Linked DNA regions of Homo sapiens: regions 1 and 2 are each reported to be linked to region 3. Evidence: microRNA targets listed by miRTarBase, many of them from high-throughput screens and not tested one by one. Region 3 holds a microRNA gene; each other region holds the end of a gene's coding sequence.

Region 1 (3,245 bases), not on the chromosome of region 3:
GAAGCTTAGGGAAAATTATCAGCATTCCAGTTTATAATTAGTAGGTCTAGAATTAGGAAAATAATCCTAAATATGGTATAAGTGACTGAAGTATATTTAATAGAAAAATACATTAAAATACTGAAGACAAAGAATGTTGCTCCATAAGCTCATAACGCAGCAATAATCAATTTACATAAATTATTCCAAATATTAATGAACATGGAGAAATCAGTGAATAACACACTGAAAAATGAATGCCTAGGAGATGAAGTAAAACTTCGGTCTTTTTGGAATATTTAATAAATTCCTGCTTTAAACTAATGATAAAAAAAAAAGGCAATTCCAAATATGACAAACGAAAAGAGACATACAAAGAGATATACGAGACTTTTTTTATTTCACAAAATGGTACATGTTAACTCTTAAGTTGGAAAACACGGATCACTAAGTGATTTTGCGAAACAAACAACAAAATCATTAACACAGAAGTGATACCAAAAATGCAAAGGAGTCTTCCCACCTCTGCACAAAACAACAAAAGCACAAAAGTTGTTAGGCTGAGACATTTCAAAGTAAATTATTTTATTACCTCAAGAAAAAGATCATATAAAAGCTATCAGTTCCAGGAAAGTTTCCAAAATGTTTAATCAAGTCAGCATAAAAATGATACCAAAATCTAGGAGAAAACGCGTAATAAAACAAAATGCTGCAAAACACAGTTCATCCTCAGTTATATCAGTAAAATATCCTAAATAAAATACTTGCCAATAGAATGCAAAAACAGAGACAGAGTAAGAAAGGACACCGAGCAGGAGCCCACGAGGTTCACAGTAAGAAAACAGCCCAGAGAGAAAGCAGCCCGAGGGATTCGGCCACGTGACGTGCGGTGGACCCTGCGGCAGGGACCGGCCAGGCTGCCCGCCCCTCAGCCCCTCAGCCCCTCAGCCGCCTCAGCCCCTCAGCCCCTCAGCCTCCTCAGCCCCTCAGCCGCCTCAGCCGCCTCAGCCCCTCAGCCCCTCAGCCGCCCACGCCTCTGCTCGCTCACCCGCCCGGCTGCCTTAGGGGTCGGCGCTGCCCAGCGGGCTCCAGCGCAGCCTCCTACCCGGCATCCCACCGGCCGCGCCTGCCACTGACTCCTGGCCGCCCGCTACTACTCGCGCGCGGTGGGCAGGGCCAGTCCGGGGGAGCGGACCCCGAGAGGCGCCGCGGGATGGCAGGCGGTGTCTTCCAAACCCAAGCCTCCGAGAGCCGCAGCCGGGCTCGGGCCGCTGACCGACCCGGAGGCCCCACTCTGTCCCAGCCAAGGCCTCCCGGAGCCATCACCCACCAGGAGTCCCGGGCGGGGGCACCACCTGCTCCACGCTGTCGCGGGCTTCTGCGAGGCCATGATCCGTGCCCAACGCCAGCAAAGGGCAGCTTGTGCCCGAGAGTGGGGGAAATGCATCCTTCCCGGGGATCTGAAAACTCCAGGTCCTCCTGCCAGGAGCCCACGGCCTCAGATGGGGCCCAGGAAGCGCCCGCGCTGGGGAAGCGCCCCCTGCACCTGAGCCCGAAATTGTCCCTAACAAACCCAACACCCGCAGGGCTGACGTTTGGACTCCGGGGTGCGGTGTCGATGAAATGGGCACCGCGTGCTTTCCATGCAAAAGACACGAAGTCTGGAGTTTATGGAATTATTGAAGGAAAGCCGCGCCAGTGCCAAGAGATCATGGCCCAGAGCTGGCAGAACTGATCAGACCAATGCTGAGCAAAAGGCCTGAAGAAGACCATCTGGAGGAGCATCCCGAGGGCTTTCCCCAAAGCACCAGATCGCCTTCCTTTCCGAGGCCACAAAGGCGAGAACCTCCAGAAATAGCATGAAACACGGTGACTTGGTGACATCCAAGCCTGCTGCCACCGTGGTTTCCGGGAAGGCAGAATCAAGGCATGAAGTAATCCACGCCAACCACGCTCCTCTGAGGGCTGAGCAAGACATCGATAGTGGGTGAAGGCAAGTGTTTGTCCCAGGAGAGGCCCAGGATGGTTGCTCCCTTGAAGTCACCCGCCAGTCTGAAGGCCCAGGGGACTTGAGCAATACCAAGAACTGGCCACGGTCCTGCAACAGCCCAAGGGCTGCCTGCCGAACATAAGGGGTGGCTGGGTCCTCCATGTGGGCAGCTCATGCAGTCAGCTCAGCAGCTCTCCCTGCCTGGAATGGTCTGGAAAGTGGGGGCCAAGCAGGAAGAGCCACCTGGGTGACCCCCCTCCCTATCTGCTATGCTCCTGTGGGGATCAGGCAAAGGGGAAATTGGATCCTTGCCAGGTTTCCAGTGAAGAAGAGGCTCCCCCAGGATGCAAACTCATTTCATGACAAGTGCCTGGCCCATCAGGCACCTCAGCAACTTGTCAAACCTGTCTCCTACAAGGACCATCCTGTGTGGGACCCTGCCAAGCTCCTAGGCTTTGGGGCAACACCAGGAGGGGAAGGTCATTTCTTCATCTGAGATGTGGTGATTGGGTCCATGTGAGACCAGGAGTCTGGGCTTCAACCCTTTTCTGCCAGCAGCGAGCTGAAGTCCTGCCTACTACGTCCTGGTGGACAAACGCTGAATTTTCAAGAAGTTGCAACACCCCCGAGAGACACCCATGCCTGTGAATATGGGCACAGGTACCAGGAATATCGCTGCCCGGGAATACTCACAGGGTTATATGCAGAATAGGCCACGAGGATGTCACATAATTCCTGCTGCCTAGAAAAGAGGGGAAAGAGGGTTTTGTTTTTTTTGTGCAGACGCTGTCAATTTCATTTTGTCTACAAACCCAAATAACGAACACAATTCTGGGTTCAGATGATCCCCCCAAATAAGCAGTGAGCTCTTTAGGACACCTGAGTTTTTAGGAATTTTTTTTCAGTAAAATCCACATTCCTTGCAATGCAATGTCGTAGGTGTACAGTTGGATCAGTGATCATTTTTCACTCTGGTTGATTTTTTCTTCCCCTTTTTCTCAGTTTGCACACACAGAAGTCCAGTCTTTGGGACGTGCAGTTCCACGATTCTGAACTAATGTGCAGAGCCTCCCGTCCACCACTGCAGCCCCTCCCAGAGCGGCTCCTTCATCTTCCAAGTCCCTAGCATGTCCCCTTTGCAGGCAACGTCTCCCGGCTCTGTCAGCCCCTGGCCATCCTGATCTGTTCTTTGTCTCTATGGTTTGCCCTTTCCCAGAATGGCCAATGAATTGGAATCCCATGGTGGTAGCCTGTTGGGTCTGGCGTCATTCCCTCA
Region 2 (3,245 bases), not on the chromosome of region 3:
AGAAAGTCATCGAGATCCAGAGTGCGTGAGGACACGTAGAGGGGCTCAGGCTGCCAAGGGGGCACGGAGCTTGTGGGAGCACCAGGACTGGGACTGTTCATGTGGGTGTCCTCTGCCCTCCCTGACCCCTTGCCTGTCTCTCGTCCACAGGCAAACACTGGAGCTGTGTGCAGAAGTTCGCCGCTGGTCTGGGCCGGTCCCTGCGAGAGGCCCAAGCAGGTGAGACCGAGGAGGCCGAGACTGTGAGCGCCATGGCCTTGCTGTCGGTGGGGGCCGAGCAGGCCCAGGCTGCGGCAGCCCGGGAACACAGCCCCAGGTAAGCAGCAACCCGCACCACCTCTCTGCCCTCACCCCTGCTGGTGCGCCCCACTCAATACCCTCCCCTGTGCTTGCCCCACAGGCCGGCAGAGGAGCCCATGGAGCAGGAGCCTGCCCTGTGACGCCCCGGCCCCCATCCCTCTGGGCTTCACCATTGTGATTTTGTTTATTTTTTCTATTAAAAACAAAAAGTCACACATTCAACAAGGTGTGCCGTGTGGGTCTCTCAGCCTTGCCCCTCCTGCTCCTCTACGCTGCCTCAGGCCCCCAGCCCTGTGGCTTCCACCTCAGCTCTAGAAGCCTGCTCCCTCTGCAGGGGGTGGTGGTGTCTTCCCAGCCCTGTCCCATGTGTCCCTCCCCCCATTTTCCTGCATTCTGTCTGTCCTTTTCCTCCTTGGAGCCTGGGCCAGCTCAAGGTGGGCACGGGGGCCCAGACAGTACTCTCCAGTTCTGGGGCCCCCCGAGTGAGGAGGGAACGGGAAGTCGGTGCCTTGGTTTCAGCTGATTTGGGGGGAAATGCCTTAATTTCACTCTCCTCCCTTCTCCAGCCTCAGGGGAGGATCTGGAGGATCCACTACTGTCTTTAAGATGCAGAGTGGAGGGGAGGTGGGCACCCACCCTGCGATTCTCCACCCTTTCCCCTTCTTTCGTCCTCACCATCTCTGCAGACCCCTCTCCTCCTCCTTCCTCTTGGTCTCAGCACTGATGGGAGGCTGGTGCCCAAGCTGTGGCCTGCAGTCTGTGAGGAGGGCTGTCTTGCCTCACACTCCTCACAGCCTACTTCCCCTTCCCCGGGGCTGAGAGGGTGAAAGTGTGTGGGGAAGGAGAGGACTGGTTTCCTGGGTTCTCAGGGGCCAGGAGGAGTAACAGAACCAGGTCTGCTCCCCACCTTACTCGGATGGCCTCCCTGCCCCTCTGCTGGCACAGCCTGGGCAAGGGGAGAAGGTGGTCCCTGCAGAGGGGCTCCAGGCTGGTGAGAGCCCCCCTGCTGTCAGGACCAGATTTTCCCAGCCATCCAGCATGCTGCGGGGAGAAGGGGCAGAGGCTCACCTCCCTCCTGGGGCCTTTTGTTTTGGATCCTGGGGATGGTGAGAATGGAGGTTCTAGAAGGGGTAAGGCCAGAACCCAGGGATCCAGGAGTCGGCTCTCAGCTGGAGCTTCCATACCTTCTGGGCTCCCTTTGCTGACCACCAGCCCAAGGGAGCTAAGACCAGGAGGGGGCTGGGCGCTGTCCCTTCTCTTTCCCAGGAGCCCTGCCAGGGGCTGTGGGCCTACAAGGCTTCCAGGGGATGCCATCCAGCCTGTAGGAAACCAAAGATGGGAAGTGGCTCCTAGGGGGCTGACTCTTCCTTCCTCCTCCTCCCCAGTACCACATATACTTTCTCTCCTTCTATCTCCAGGGCCCCACCAATCTGTTTACATATTTATTATCCTATGGGGGCCTGAGCAGGATTGAGGGAGCCAGGGGAGGGGCAGGAGTCCCAGCACCATCGGTTCATAGTGTGCTTGTGTGTTTGTTTTAGATCCTCCTGGGGGATGGGGATGGGGCCAGGCTCAGTGTACTAGGCCTCTCTGTGCTGAGCCCCAGGCTCCCGGCCCCTTACCCACTCTCTCCCTGTGGCTGGTCTGGTTCTCATGTAAACCCACTCCTTGCTTTGTCTCCCTGGATATGGATTTCAGTTAAGTATTTTGTAACCCGTTACACTGTGTGTCCTTGTGTAAATAAACTTGTTTCTGGCAGTGCCTTCTGGGGCCAATGTCTCTATTCTCTGGGCTCCCAAATGGAGTAGAGGTTCTCATCCTCCTTCCTAGCCAAACACACTACTCTTTTCTCCAGCCCCTGGACTAGAAGCCGATTTAGGAAACTGGAGGTTGGGGCGCAAGATCTGTCCTGTAAGTGAAAAGACAGGGTTATACCGAATATAGTCACAGCATCTCATGGGACCTCTCATGTGGCCTAGGCAGTGATGAGGCAGGGGACCCAGGGCTGAGAGGTCTCACCTGAGTTTACAGCCCTCTCCTTTCCTGCCTCTCTGCCCCTGGAAACAGGGCTGGAGATGGCACAGAGACTACTGGAGCAGCCTGGCAAAGGTTCCACTTGTGCACACACAGGCAAGGCCCATGGAGATGTGCGCATAGGCAAGAAAGGAATCTCAAAGTATTCAAGGGCTTTATTGGGGCCGCCCTGGCTGCCCCTCACAGTGTTGCAAGAACCCGCTGGTCTTGCTGTTGCCTTTGCTCTTTGGGGGCTTGAGAGGAAAGGCAGAGGGAGGACCAACTTATCTGGGAGAGAGAAGGCCCATCTTTGGGGCTAAGACCAGGTGGTGCGGAAGCAGATTTAGGGAGGGGAGGGCCTACTTAGGGGCTGGAAGGGGATGGGGCTGCCTCCTGGAGTGTGGTGGTCACAGAGTGTTGGCTTTGTGGGAGGGAAAGGAAAGGGAGGCACACAAGAAGTCAGGAAGAGTGGATGGGCGGTGCTTCCTGGGCACTGAACATGTGCACTGCCCAGGGCACGAGGGCCAGGACTAGGCATGGCCAGAGGGTGTACTTGAGGAAATTGAAAATGTAGAAGAGGCTGATCTGAGGGGGGTGGCCCAGCCAGTCCAGGGGGCCCAGCAGCCCCATGGCCAGCACAAGGCAGGCTATCTTCTGGCCATTTCCCAGCTGTGCCCGACGCACCTGGGCATAGCAGGGAGAGTGCAAGGCAATGCCCAGGCCCAGGGCAGCCCCTGAGTCACGGCTCAGGGAGGCAAAGGGCCGGCTATCCACGTGTATCCACTCAGGCCGCTCACACCACTTGAAGGCTAGGCTGATGGACCTGTGGGGAAGAAGAGTTCTTGCCAGGAGAGGCTGGAACATAGAAGGCCACTGGCTCTTGGCCATCTGCCCTTGGGGCCCACTCCCATGTTCTGTTTTGTGCCTGTGAG
Region 3 (3,245 bases):
CAGGACCCACCAGGACTCAAACCCAGGACCCAGGAAAAACCCAGCAGCTTTTTCCTGGGGAAGACCAAGTTGACGGTGTGCCCACTTGGCCACGTCTTAGCCTATGTAAAGGACACCACCTTCCCCAGCCCTGCCTGGAGCCCCCAGCAAGAACCCAGTGCCACCCCTCGACCCTCCCACCCTGCCTGGCACAGCAAGAACCTGGTTCCTAGGCTCTTGACCTCTGGGCTCCCAGCAAGCCGCTGGCCTGACCCTGCACAGATGGGTTCCCTGTGCTGTCCTCAGTATCCCTTCCTTAGCTAGGAGGGCACTCTCTGGATCACATGGCTGCAGGTAAGGGGGGAAGGTGTCCTCCCTGCCCAAGGTTTGTTCTCATGGCCAACTGCACCACACCAGTGCTGCGGCCACACTGCCCGCCCCGTCGCCAGGGGGTCCTGCTTCTGCCTCTCCCTTTGGGCACAGCCCTGCCAGCTACCCCATGACACAGCCGGCGCCTCATCCCACAGGGAGCCTGGCAGCGGCCACTCACCAGCAATGCTCATGAAGCGGTGTGAGAAGATGGACAGCTGGATAGGGTCCAGCTGGGGGCCCACTGTGCCGGGGACTTCGGCCCCCACGGAGATGCAGATGTCCCCTGTCTTGGTCACCTCTGCCTGGCAACCTGGCTCCACCAGGATGGTGCTGGGGAGCAGAGGGCACAGAGGGCTGCATGGGGCCAGGCGACACCCCTCCAACCAGAGATGCCACGGCCCCAGGCCAGGGGCCACCCCAACGATGGTGGGATACAGAGTCCTGCAGGCCCCTGCAGCCTTGGGCCAGAGAACCCTGCACCAGGGGCCCCGCAGTGGACCCGTCCACATCCTCCACCCTGGCCGGACTTCAGCCCACCTGTTACTGTCGATGATGAGGCAGGGCCCATGGAGCTTGTGCCCATAGCCCAGCTCTGCCAGCAGGTACACAGGGGTCTCCTGGTAGCCCCCCTCAAAGTAGCACTGGGTCATCTGCAGAGGGTGCGGGTGAGTACAGCGCCCGGGCCCAGCACCCTCCCCGATGCCTCTCACAGGGCTTGGTCCCCATCCCGGTGCCCCATGGGTGCTGTCAGGCTGGCACAGGCAGGACCACCAACCTTGTCCACCCGGGGAGGCCCGGTCTGGGCTTTGGGGGCATCCTCGAGGCGAAGACCACTGCGGCCGGTGCCCCGCACTCGCACATCGTCCACGACCACCGGCCGCTCAGGTATGACAAAGCCAAACTCCCTCATGTACCTGCACTCCCCGCGGGGACCCAAGGAGTGGTCAGAGTGAGGCGGCCAGACAGGAGGGCCCCTTGCCAGGGATCCGGAGTCAGGAAGCCACGTACCGCTCCACAAAGGCTGCCCCGAAGTCCCCCGCACGGGGCGAGCGGGCTGTGGCTGGGTGCTGGTGGGCAGACACCATCAGAGCACAGTCCGTGCCCTGGTAGCGCAGGTGCAGGAAGCTCTCAGTGCTGATCTGGGACCTGCAGCAGGTGGTTGGGGGCACTCACACCAAACCCCCTGCCCTGACCCCACCCCACCCAGCGCCCGGCAAGGACACCTGTTCTGCTTCTCGCACACCCCGGGACCACCTGGGAAGTCATCAGGAGGAACACCCACCAAGGGCGTGGTGAGGACAACGTAAGCCCTCTGTCCAGGGCACCCTGGGAGCCCACCTGGGGAAGCCCTGGGCCTGCAGAGCATCCACACACTGCTCCTCCAGGCGGCTCAGCCTCTGGTCCAGCTGCACGAAGGTCTCAGGCGCGTAGAGCAGGGAGCAGGGTTCCTGTGCCTCATGCACCACGTCAGCCAGGGCCAGCCCCAGGGCCGACAGCAGCCCACTGTGCCTGCAGGGATGGGCAGCATGGCAATGGGAGGTCACCTCCCAAGCCCGGCGCAGATCACACCACCTCCGTGCACCCACACCCAGGCCCACCTGTGGATGTGCACCGTGTCCATGCCCAGGGCCCGGGCGATGGCACATGCATGCTGCCCACCAGCTCCCCCAAAGCAGGCCAGCACATGGGCTGAGGGGTCATGGCCTCTTGCCTAGGGAGACAGAAGGGGTCAGTGGGCTCTCCTACTCTACCCCATCCAGCCCCCAGCCTGAGCAGGAGGCCTGGGGCAGGGAGCAGGGCTGGGGGCAGGACAGGCGGGAGAGCAGAGGTGGACGTACCTGCGTGAGTGCACGGATGGGCCGGCACATGGCCTCGTTGGCCACGCGCACGAACCCCATGGCCACCTCCTCCAGGCTCAGCGGGGAGGCCGGGCAGGGCCCGTTGGTCAGGAAGCTGTTGACCTCAGTGGCCACAGCCTCCAGGGCTTTGCGGGAGGCCTCAGGGGAAAGTGGTTGGTTCTCTCCCGGCCCAAAAATGCAGGGGAAGGAGGCAGGCAGCAGGCGACCCAGGACCAGATTAGCATCCGTCACTGTCACAGGGCCCCCTGGGAGGTGGACAGGGTGTGGGGCTTGGGGGCTGGAGGCAGGGGAGCAGGAGTAGGCAGCAGGGATAGGGCTGACAGGAGGGGCTGGGCCTGCGGCGGCAAGCGGAGGGCAAGGCCAGGCCGGCCAGATCCTGACTCTTACCTTTGCGGTAGCAGGCGGGTCCTGGGTGGGCTCCTGCTGACTCGGGCCCAACCACAAAGAGGCCAGACCTAGGGGAAGGAAGGGCTGGGGTTGGAGTTGGACACGAGGAGGGAGACAGGGCTGGGGTCCCAGCCTGGGAAGCAGGAGAGCTGACCTGAAGAAGAGGCGGGAACCCCCTCCCGCTGCCACGGTGTTGATGTCCAGCTGCGGGGCCTGGAGGGTGACGCCAGCTGTGCTGGCCTCGAAGACGTGCTCGAATTCCCCAGCATAGCGGCTCACATCCGTGGACGTGCCTGGCAGGGGTGGGGTGCTGGTGGGTCACTTGAAGACCCAGGGGCCCAGCAGCTGAGCCTCCCCGAGACCCCAGCCCTCGGCCCTCATACCTCCCATGTCAAAGCCGATGACAGGCTGGCCACCCTCCTGCTGGTAGGTGGTGGCTGAGTAGCCCACCACGCCGCCGGCCGGGCCCGAGAGCACAGCACTGGAGCCGCTGAAGGTGTCCATGGGCGCCAGGCCGCCATCGGAGCGCATGAACAACACCTGCACATCCTGCGAGCGGGCAGCAGGCGGGCCATGAGGGGCAGGCCAAGGCCCAGGCCCAGGCCCAGGAGTGGGCAGTGGGGGTGCCTCACAGCCTCACCTTGAGTT

What was found. The annotated mature microRNA hsa-miR-6846-5p reads UGGGGGCUGGAUGGGGUAGAGU and lies in region 3 at 2,096-2,117, opposite strand. An mRNA with a match to its seed (bases 2 to 7 or 8) in the 3' UTR can be bound and repressed. Matches are read on the target gene's strand: a 7mer-m8 pairs with bases 2 to 8, a 7mer-A1 pairs with bases 2 to 7 and ends in A, and an 8mer does both.
Region 1: the mRNA of TBC1D28 is a reported target of hsa-miR-6846-5p. Seed matches in the 3' UTR shown: 7mer-A1 at 2,189-2,195.
Region 2: the mRNA of G6PC3 is a reported target of hsa-miR-6846-5p. Seed matches in the 3' UTR shown: 8mer at 2,562-2,569.

Annotation. Positions count from the first base shown.
Region 1 is chr17:18,633,887-18,637,131 of GRCh38, forward strand. It overlaps TBC1D28 (TBC1 domain family member 28), which reads right to left. Exons shown (of 10, transcript NM_001039397.3): 10 at 361-2,711. The coding sequence ends at 2,576. Among named protein-coding and RNA genes, the nearest start is that of TBC1D28, 8.9 kb to the right of the region's middle.
Region 2 is chr17:44,075,571-44,078,815 of GRCh38, reverse strand. It overlaps G6PC3 (glucose-6-phosphatase catalytic subunit 3), which reads right to left. Exons shown (of 6, transcript NM_138387.4): 6 at 2,472-3,136. The coding sequence ends at 2,773. It overlaps HDAC5 (histone deacetylase 5), which reads left to right. Exons shown (of 27, transcript NM_005474.5): 25 at 1-21; 26 at 151-316; 27 at 401-2,063. The coding sequence ends at 440. Among named protein-coding and RNA genes, the nearest start is that of G6PC3, 6.5 kb to the right of the region's middle. RefSeq lists enhancers at 1,251-1,790, 2,808-3,245.
Region 3 is chr8:144,055,259-144,058,503 of GRCh38, forward strand. It overlaps MIR6846 (microRNA 6846), which reads right to left and starts at 2,122; the gene lies at 2,063-2,122. It overlaps OPLAH (5-oxoprolinase, ATP-hydrolysing), which reads right to left. Exons shown (of 27, transcript NM_017570.5): 6 at 3,238-3,245; 7 at 2,981-3,146; 8 at 2,752-2,890; 9 at 2,598-2,665; 10 at 2,190-2,455; 11 at 1,950-2,062; 12 at 1,690-1,860; 13 at 1,360-1,497; 14 at 1,127-1,265; 15 at 889-1,001; 16 at 530-681.